Regions from separate parts of the Homo sapiens genome. Here region 2 is linked to region 1. The links come from fine-mapping of genetic effects on gene expression. A gene starts in region 1. The other region holds a variant in brackets. All regions are shown on one strand. Distances are from middle to middle. Region 1 holds the start of HLMR1 (hepatic lncRNA metabolic regulator 1). Region 2 overlaps HLMR1 (hepatic lncRNA metabolic regulator 1).

The links. PIP is the estimated chance that this variant, and not a neighbour inherited with it, causes the effect. A credible set is the group of variants that fine-mapping cannot tell apart.
Region 2: its variant is the best candidate, but not a certain one, in a credible set for the expression of HLMR1 in liver (GTEx, PIP 0.88).

What each region holds. Positions count from the first base shown.
Region 1 is chr3:142,924,002-142,929,382 of GRCh38, reverse strand. It overlaps HLMR1 (hepatic lncRNA metabolic regulator 1), which reads right to left and starts at 2,708. Exons shown (of 5, transcript NR_038455.1): 1 at 2,487-2,708. RefSeq lists an enhancer at 1-216.
Region 2 is chr3:142,942,514-142,947,894 of GRCh38, reverse strand. It overlaps HLMR1 (hepatic lncRNA metabolic regulator 1), which reads right to left. Exons shown (of 5, transcript NR_038455.1): 5 at 5,359-5,381. Among named protein-coding and RNA genes, the nearest start is that of PAQR9, 18 kb to the left of the region's middle. The variant C/T (reference allele first, on the strand shown) is at 3,021.

The DNA.
Region 1 (5,381 bases):
CAAGGCACGCCCTGCTTCCTTGCAGATCCTCAGGAGAGCTGCCCTGTCTGAGAACACTGCCCTCTGCTGCTCGGTGTGAATTCACCCATGAGGCTTATAAACAGAGAATTAACCCTCACTCTACCTTAAACTTACTCTTTTATTCAGAGAGGTATATCTAACTACAGTGTCAACTTTGTCTTGGTTCACACAGATCCCCAGGAACAGAGTGAGCAATCAACACATTTTTGTTGAATGAAAGAAGGAATGTGATGTTACTTTGCACATATTGGAGAGTGCATGCAAATGTGTTAATATGTCTGAGTATTGTGTGCAAGTGTGGGTGTTCACAGCACAAAATAGGCTGGTCAAGAGTGAACATCATATATTTTACTTTTCTTGCACCCACCCACCCCCCGCCCCCCACCACTTCCCAGCCGTGCCAGAGACACTACAGATGCAGACTAACAAATTGACTTAGAAGGTCAGGACTCAAAAGCCTATTCCAAAAATATTAAGAATGGCCAAGAAGTTAAAATCCAATCAAATAAAATCCCATTTTTTAATTCTTTTGTTAGCACACTAGTTTTTTGTGTGGTGGAGGAGAGGTTACTCATTAGAAAATAAAATTCTAAACTTATAACAAGATACTATAACTGATACTAATCTTTGCCAACTGTTAATAATTTCTTTCTCATTCTTGTAACTGATGCCCGAAATGCATCTAATATATAATTCCGAAACATTTTAATTACCATTATATTTAAAGTAAGAAAGGAGGGGGAAATGTAGCTTTTAAAGACTCTGAGCAGCTCACCTAAGATGGCCTTTCAAAGATAAGTGATATAAAACATTAAAGAGCCTAAAGCTTACATAGTCCAGCCTTGGTGTGTAAATAAAGGAGGCAGAGCCCAGAGAGTATAGGCTTGTTCAGAGTCTCACAGTGTGAGGGTATAGCCAGGACCAGAAGCCTGCAATCCCTACTTCCACCCCAGTCTCTCATCCTACACAGCACAGCTTCCAATGTAGAAGAAAATGGCTCTATCTTTGTTTGTTATATCAGATTGTTTAAAGTATTTAAGATATGTGCTTTAGATATCATTACACTGGCAGATAACAATATACAGAGTAATAAGAATTTGAAGATAACTTTGAGAATCACTTATTATAACACATACATTAACAAGAGAGAATGAATATTTACTAAGTATCTACCACATCCATGGCACATGGCTATTCCCTATAGAGACTACTGAATGAATAAATGATAGCATGAACTTATGTAACACTCGCCATAAGCCAGGTTGGTCTAAGTGCTTTACATTCATTAAGACGTTTAATCTTCACAACAACTCTGTGAATATCTGTTATTATCACCATCCCCAGTTTACAGATAAGGAAATTGAGGCACAGAGAACTTCACCAAGATCAGGCAGCCAGCAAACAGAACTTTACAACTTTGGTCATCTGACTCCATGGGCTATGCAAACTATGATCTACCTCCCATCTTAAGGAACAGAAACATAGGAAAAGGTGAATGGTAATGCGGATTTAAATAACAGTTAATGACAACTATAATGGACAAAAGGCAATATCCAAGAGGCAAGTGAATAGTATAAGTCAGAACTCTTTGCGTGCAAGCACCAGAAACTAAATTTAAAATCTCTTAAGTTATCTCAAAAGCTATTTATTTGCTGGCAATAGTAGAAGGCATTGTGGGCTGAATTTTGTCCCCCCACAATTCATGTGTTGAAGTCCTAACTCCCAGAACCTCCAAATATAACCATATTTGGCATAGGGCCTTTAAAGAGGTAATCAGGGTAAATTGAGGTCATTCGGATGGATCCCAATCTAATCTAACTGGTGTCCCTGTAAGAAAGTGAGATTAGGACAAAGACACACACAGAGGGAAGGCCAAGTGAAGGCACAGAGAGGAGGCCTATATGCAAGCAAGAAGAGAGTTTCCAGAGTGAAACCAACCTCCATGACACCTGGATCTCAGATTTCTAGTCTCCAAAGTCACAAGGAATTAAATTCCCATTTTTAGCCACCCAGTCTGTAATACTTTGTTAATGCAGCCTGAGCAGAATAAAATAGAAGAATACTGGGTGTTTCATAGAATTAAAGAGTTACAGGAAACAGTCGGAGCCAGGAATCTCAAGGACTAGAACAAGGACCTCAACACCTGCAGAATACACACACTATCCTCCCCACACTTCCAGCTTCAGAATTTAAAAATGCCAAGGATGGCCTCAACTGATCCAGTTGAGGTCGCATTCCCAACCCTAAGCCAATCATTTAATTCTCCTAGTTCAGTGATGCATCTCTACCATCCTTCGCCGGTCTGTGTCCCCAGATCCTCCTGTGGTTGAGTTTCCCAAGAGAGTAAACCTGGTTTCTGCCAGGACAAGAGAGAGGCTGCTGAAAGATGAGGAAGGAATCCAGAGGTCTGACTGCTTTCTCCAAGGACTTTCCATAAACCTCCTGTTTTCAGCTCCGCCTCTTACCTTTTCTTTCAGAAGAATCTGGTGCCTCCAATTCTGGGGACTTTACGGGTGCTGTGCCATGAACTAGCTTCCTTCTTAAGCTCCCCATCTGCTGGTACTGCAGTTTCAGCCCCTGTCCATGTCCATCTCCAAAAATGAGATGACATGGACTTTTCACCTATTCTTTCTGTCTTGTGGACTTGGGCCTTTTTGGCTTCTTTGCTGTCATTTTAGTAGCATTTTGAAAGAGATGAAAGAAAAACACAGGTTTTTAAACTGCAATGTTTAACCAGAAGTCTATTTTGGGAATTTTCAAATAATCCTCTGTGAAGGTGCCACAGTGGCTTACTTCTGGCTTGGGAAGGTGGCAGTAGCACAGAGGACAGACAGGAGAGCAGACTAGGAAAAGGGTAGGCAGGCTCTGGCCTCTGCCCCCGCATCAAGCAGAAAATCTTGCTTTTTATGTTTTATACATTGTCCTTCTAAGATTTCATTTGAAGAAAGAGACTTTAACTAAAAATAGAAAATCTTAAAACCACTGTGCAATACCAGCCTGCCTCCTACATATTTTAAAGAGTTTAAATTATGGTGTACATACATGTATTCTGGTTTTTTTTCATTAGATTGTGTTACAAACATGTTTCCATATTTATGTGGCTTTTTCATCATCAGTTTCTTAACCTAGTGCCTGGCACATGATAGGCTTTTAGTAAATAGTGATTGATTGAATGAATGAATTATATTTAACAGCTGCTTCTAATTTATTTGTAATTACAGAGAATAAGCTCTTCCATTCATTCATTTATTCACCCAACACATATTTATTCAATACCTATTATATGTCAGGCATTGATGGATGGTGCTGAGAATACAGGAATGAGTAAGGCAAACCGTCCTTTCCACACAGAGCCAACAGTCTAACGGGGGAATCTGACAAGTGAATTGACAATCACAATATGTATAAAAGCTATGGGAAACAAAAAGCATCTACAGGAGCACATCATAGGGGTCCCTAATGCAGACCTGAAAGTTGGGGAAGTCTCCCTGGAGGAAAAGACTTAAAGTGAATCCTAAAAAACTAACAAAACAGTTTCTGGTTCAGCATGTAAGAAATTTGGAAGTTGCCACTCTGTCCTAATGAGTAAAAAGCTGAACAAACTGAAAAACCAAATTAGCCAGGCATGGTGGTGCACACCTGTGGTCCCAGCTACTCGGGAGGCTGAGGCATGAGAATTGCTTGAGCCTGGGAGGTGGAGGTTGTAGAGAGCCGAGATTGCACCATTGCACTCCAGCCTGGGTGACAGAGCGATATTCTTGTCTCAAAAAAAAAAAAAAAAAAGCAGTGAAAAATCAACAACTCTTCTTAGCTCTATAAGAGAAGTGATGGCACAGGACAAATTGCTTCCCCCAAAATTGGGAAGACCAACAGGCAAATACAGAGAATCACAACTTCAAGAGCAGAAACCTCCATGGGAACCAGTGCTGGCACAGAAAAGTCTGAACTTGTAACTGTGAATTGCTGGAGCCAGTTCTCAGACAAGTGTGAACAAGTCTGAGAGATAAAAATCCAGGGGAACTGAATCATAGAGAGGTCCCCACACTTTTGTGGGTTTTACCTCCAGGAGCACTACCAGGTCTCACAGTGAATATTAGGGAAAAAAATCCCCTCCTGCTTCCAGCAGTGGGAGGGGAAAAGGAGCCATTTTGAAATATGCTAGAGCATTATGTTCTTAACAAGGTCTGTCCTCAGGAGAAACTATGTAACCAGAGCCTGACCTGCTGGGGTTAAATATCCAACTCAAGTCCATTCCAGCCATCCTGTCCCACCTAAGGTGAGGTGGGGGAAGGGACCTAGAGGCACATGAAGTTCACAATCCAGAGTAATGGGCTCACTGAAAGACTGAGGAGAACACTTCCTCTCCCCACAGATCTTACCACCACCTAACTAAAGGCCTGTTGACAGCAGTTCCTTTTACCCAGGACACGTATCATTCCTGCTATCCAAAAAAGAAAAACAAAAACAAAAACAAGACATACAAAAAAGAAAAAAAAACCCACAGTTTGAAGAGACAGAACAAGTATCAGAACCAGATTCAGATATGGCAAAGATGTTGAAATTATCAAACCAGAAATTTAAAACCACTATGATTAATGTGCTCAGCTTTAATGGATAAAGAGGACAGCATGCAAGAACAGATGGGCAAGGTAAGCAGAGAAATGGAAATTCTAAGAAAGAACCAAAAAGAAATGCTACAGATCAAAAACATTGCAATAGAATTGAAAAATGTAGGCTGGGCATGGTGGCTCATGCCTGTAATCCCAGCACTTTGGGAGGCCAAAGCGGGCAGATCATGAGTCCAGGAGTTCAAGACCAGTTTGGGCAACATGGCAAAACCCCATTTCTACAAAAAATACAAAAATTAGCAGGGCATGGTGGCATGCCTGTTGTCCGAGCTACTTGAGAGGCTAAGGCAGGAGGATCACTTGAAGCTGGGAGGTCGAGGTTGCAGTGAGCCATGTTTGCCCCACTGCACTCTAGCCTGGGTGACAAAGTGAGAACCTGACTCAAATAATAACAATAATAAAGAAATGAAAAATGCCTTTGATGGGCTTATTAGTAGAATGAGCATGGCTGAGAAAAGAATCTCTGAGCATAAGGATATCTCAGTAAAAACCTCCCAAACTGATAAGCACAGAGAAAAAACGACTTAAAAAAAACCCCAGAATCTCTAAGAACTCTGAAACAATTACAAATGGTATAACATATGTGTAATGGGACTATCAGAAGGAAAAGAAAGAGAGAAAGGAACAGAATAAATATTTGATATGATAAGGACTAAGAATTTCCCAAAATTAATGTCAGACACCAAACCACAAATCTAGGCATCTTAGAGAACACCAAGCATGATAAATGCC
Region 2 (5,381 bases), 19 kb before region 1:
GGATTCTGACATTCCAGTGGTCACACACACACACACACACACACACACACACACAACTCAGAAACACCCTGGTCACCGTGAGACGATCTCCAAGCTGTAAGGGTTCCCAGAAAGGACCGTTGGAGAACCATGGGAGAGCTGAGGGGAACTGGGCACAGGCTGTCAGGAGTGGGGACAGGCAGGAAAATGGCTCGGGCTGGACTCCCGCAGGCCGATGCAGGCTCAGATATGCTGCCTGCGGGATGTCGTGCTTTCCAGGCGCGGGAGGCGTGGCAGGGGCCGGGGCGCCTGTCGGGCGAGGCAGCATCTCCTGGGGCAGTCCCTGAGCTCCTCGGTCGCGGGCAGGTAGATCCGACACAGCTGGGCGCAGGCGGCGGGGTCGGCCTGGGAGTCGGCTTGGGTCTCAGGGAGAGCGCGGGGAGGCCAGCATGGCAGGGCGCTGCGGCCTCGGAAGGGGAGCCAGGCAGGCGCCGAGAGGACACGAACTCGAGGCCTCCAGCGGCGCAGAGGAGAGGGAGTAGGCGCCGGGCTGGGCACGCCAAGGTGCTCTAAGTTCCCGCCTGCCCCTTCCTCCTCCTGTGGCTTCTTGTGTCTTGCATGGGCGGATCTGGAGTGGGTTCGACTTCTCGCGCCGTTATTTCATCCTCTTATCACCTTAGGCAACCTACTCTGCCTCTCATCTTCCATTTCCTCATCTGTAAAATAGAGCGGGAAGTATTTCTTACTTCATAGTGGTATTGTCAGAAGCGTTTGAACCAGAGCAACTCCATCTTGAATAGAGGAGGCTGGGCGAAATAAGGCTGAGACCTACCAGGCTGCATTCCCGGGAGGTTAGCCATTCTAAGTCACAGGATGAGACAGGAGGTCGGCACAGGATACAGGTCATAAAGAATTTGCTGATAAAACGGGTTGTAGTAAACAAGCCAGCTAAAACCCACCAAAACCAAGGTGGCAAAGGGAGTGACCTCTGGTCGTCCTCACTGCTACACTTCCACCAGTGCCATGACAGTTTACAAATGCCATGGCAACGTCAGGAAGTTACCCTATGTGGTCTAAAAAAGGGAGGCATGAATAACGCCCCCCCCCCCACGTTTAGCATACAATCAATAAATAACCATAAAAATGGGCAACCAGCAGCCCTTAGGGCTGCTCTGCCTATGGAGTAGCCATTCTTTTATTCTTCTACTTTCTTAATAAACTTGCTTTCACTTTACTGTATGGACTTGCCCTGAATTCTTTCTTGTATGAGATTCAAGAACCCTCTCTTGGGGTCTGGATCTGGACCCCTTTCCATTCACAGCATGAGGATACAATGAATGGATGTAAAGCAATTTTGCCCCGCACCTGGCGCACCATAACTGTTCAGTACATTGTAGCTAGTGTTTTTATTAGCTCAAACTCTTTAATTTTTGTAGAAACGGGGATCTCACTTTGTTACCCAGGCTGGTCTCGAACTCCTGGTCTCAGAGAATTCTCCCACCTCAGCCTCCCAAAGTGCTGGGATTACAGACAAGAACCACTGTGCCTGGCCTAGGTCAAACTCATAACACACCCAATCCATGAGGATCCAAGGGACCTGTGTGCAAGAACTGGATTAAGATTTTCTCTTTAGACCAGTGATGTCCAACAGAAATATAATGTAAACCATGTATGTATTTCTTTAATTTTCTAAAGCCACAAAAAAGTGTAAAACTGTACAAACAATTGGATGAATTGAATTAGTGGAATTATAGGTGTTAACCATGTTAATTTGTTTCAAGCATGAGATAGTGACAGGGTTGTAGTGCTTATACTTAGATTGAGTGCTAGAAATGTTGGTAATGAGGAATCCAGCAAAGATACTGCCAATTGTTAGGTGTTTAATTGATTTTAGTAATGTTTTCTTTAAGCAACTATATCCAAAATATCACTTCAACATGTGACATTAGCCACATTTCAAGAGCTTCAGTCTCCCCTGTGCTAGACAGCACAGCTCTAGATATCTCTTCCCTAAGATCTCTGTGATACGGACAAGAGACAGGGAAATACGGGGTAGAAGAGAATGGTTCCCCAGCAAAGGCCCTACCCTTAAGCCTGGAGACTCTCAGCCCTAAGTAGGAACAGGCATTTCTGTTACCTTTTGGCCCACGATGCTCCCCAGTCCTGTACCCATAGAAACCCCAAACCCCGGGCTCCAGAAGCAGATGAGCCAACAAGGAGACGGGGAGACAAGCAGACAAATGGCATAGCAGAGAAAAAGAAGAGGAGGAACATCTGAATGCCAAGAGTTCAGCTGGGAGTGGTCAGAGAGGAGTTCCACTGCTGAATGGCCAAACTCCAGGGGACGATCATCTTCCCACTCCATCCCCCTTCCACCTCCCCATCCATCCTACTGAGAGCCACCTCCACTACTCAATAAAACCCTACATTCATCCTTCAAGCCTGTGTGTGACCAGATTCTTCTGGGATGCTAGGCAAGCGCTCAGGATATAGAAAGCTGTCACCCTGGCCCTTTGCCCTTGCAAAAAAGTAGAGCATCCATTGAGCTGGTTAACACTTAAGCTGTCCATGGACAGCAAGGCTGAAAGAGCATTGTAACACCGGGAGCACAGGCACCCACCCCTAGACACTACCACAGGGCCAGAGCCCAAAGCACTTGCCCTGGCTCCTGCACCTGCCCGTCTGCATGCTGCCATTCCTGTCAGGGGTTTGAGCAGTGACAGTAACCAAACAGGCGAGCCACAACCCTGCTGCACATCCTGCAGGTGGATCAGAGAACTCTCCCATTTCATATGAATGCCCAGCTCCTTTCCACCGTTTGGATCTCAACTCAAATGTCACCACCACCTTTGACCACTTATCTAAAGTAGGTTCCCCTTCCCCTTCTCCAGGAGCTGTGGCTCCTTCCTGTAGTCCCAGCTACTAGAGGCCTTGAGCCCAAGAATTTGAACCAGGCTGGGGATATAGTGAGACCCCTATCTCTAAAACAGAAAGAAGAAAAAAACAGCTGCAGTTGCCTCTGTCCCCTTCATGCCCACATA[C/T]ATGTACATTCACCTGGCTTCACCCTGTTTTACTTTCTACACACCATATATCACCACGTGAAATTCCGTTGCTTATTGTTTCCCTTTCCTTGTTAGAACCTAAGTTCTCAGGCTGCAGAGTGAGATCCTCAGCACCCAGCACAGTATGTGGCACATTATAGGCACTTATTTAATATTTGCATGAATTAATGAATGAACAAACGAATACATTACTAGACGTGGGAGTCCTTGTTGGAGGAAACAAGTTTGATATAATATTGCCCTAGTTTCTAAAAACGAAACCTCCAAACAATGAAAAAAGCAGCTTCATTTTCTATTTATGTCAATACTGCCCCAGTAACAGTTAAAATCAATGTATCAGGAAGTATTCTTTACTTTCTGTTTGTGCTTCTGAGTCAGGAAAGTAAGTAGTTTTGCCTTCCGATAAGTGAACAAAATTAGAAGAATTGATATTTGCATGTTTTCTGGGATATGAAATTCTCAAGTCCTTATTAAAAAAGGTAATTTGAAAAAGTTGGGATAGGTTTTCCTCAACCCTTAAAATGAAACTTTTGGTTGACACTAGAGCTTTATTGCTGGCAATGACAAGGCATTTGTTTACTAAAAGTAACATTGTTTCACATTTATCTTGCCAAAAATAGATGCTACCTACTCTATAGACAGAACTACTCAATTTTGACCAAGAAGATATCTCAGCATTGTGGGAATAATATTAAATTTGAACAGTACAAAGGTTGCATAATAAGGGGATATGAAAAGAGTCTTCTATACATTTGATGATTAATCAGGCAATAACAAGTGACTCAACTGCTACCTTTATGTCTAGGTTTATAAACTTGACTCTCCCAACTGTGGTATCATGAGTGTCAGATGTTCTTCAACAGCCATTTATTTACTTTATAGATTGTCTGAATTGTATGCCAACTCAAAGATTTAAGATTTTTAAAAATTACCAATAGTTTTTAAAATAAAATTTAATACATAAAAATATTAAAATGAGCCCAAATGGTGAAGACCCAACTTATTATATATGTGTTGACTCTTATTAAAAAGAAAGGGGATAGATGGCCTAGCATAAGTTATCTATATATTCTCTGTTGAGGTCATTGAACAATAGGGTATTCTTGATAAGTAAACATTCAGGCTATGGGTCAATAACAATAGTTAAAACCTATTTCTGGGTAAGCAACACAACTAAGGCAATGAGTGTGTTTGTGATACCAGTTCAAATGAATTTGTTTGATGTTATAAAATGGTTACTAAAATAGTGGTTGCCAAGCCTGGGTTCACAGTACAATTACCTAGGGAGCTTTACAAGACGGCTGATTGCCAGGCTCTATCCTCAGAGATTCTAATTCAGGCAACCTGTTGGGGCTTTGGAACCTGTAGTTAGGTGACTCCAAAGATCAGCCAGTTCAGGGAACCCTTGCAGCAAGATTGTCCAAGTGTTACTAGAAGTAGATTCACCAGGATGCCAAAGAGGCTCAATTTTCAGGGCCTTTCATTTGCATGGGTCTCTTCCAAAGCACCGTATCTAATTTTATATTTGTAATTTTGTATTCCTTTTCTTTTCTTTTCTTTTCTTTTTTTTTTTGAGACAGAGTCTCGCTCTGTCACCCAGACTGGAGTGCAGTGGCACTATCTCGGCTCACTGCAAGCTCAGCCTCCCAGATTCATGCCATTCTCCTGCCTCAGCCTCCTGAGGAGCTGGGACTACAGGTGCCCGCCACCATGCCCAGCTAATTTTTTTGTATTTTTAGTAGAGATGGGGTTTCACCCTGTTTTGCCAGGATGGTCTCGATCTCCTGACCTTGTGATCCACCCACCTTGGCCTCCCAAAGTGCTGGGATTACAGGCGTGAGCCACCATGCCTGGTCTTGCATTCCTTTTCTTAAAGAGGGCCCCCTAATTGTAAAGAGCTCAGTCCCCACAAAACCTGAATCTGCTCCTGGCCATAAAGTATACTGTAGTCAGAAAACTATAACTCCCAGGCAAATCTGGCTCTCTGCCGGCTTTTGTACAGCCCACACACTAAGAATAGTTTTTACATTTTTAAATGGTTAAAAAAAAAGAAGAGTAATACTTTATGACACATGAAATTACTTGACATTCAAATTTCAGCATTCATAAATAAAGTTGTATTGGCTCACAGCCATGCTCACTCATTTATGTATTGTCTATAGCTGCTTTAGTGCTACAATGGCAGAACTGAGTAGTTGCAACAGAGATTGTATGGTCTGAAATGCTTAAAATATTTACTATCTAGGTCTTAACAGAAAAAGTCTGTAGACCCCTGACCCATACCATGAAATAATAACATCTTAGACATGACAGAAAATTGATTTGAAGGGATTGCTTTAT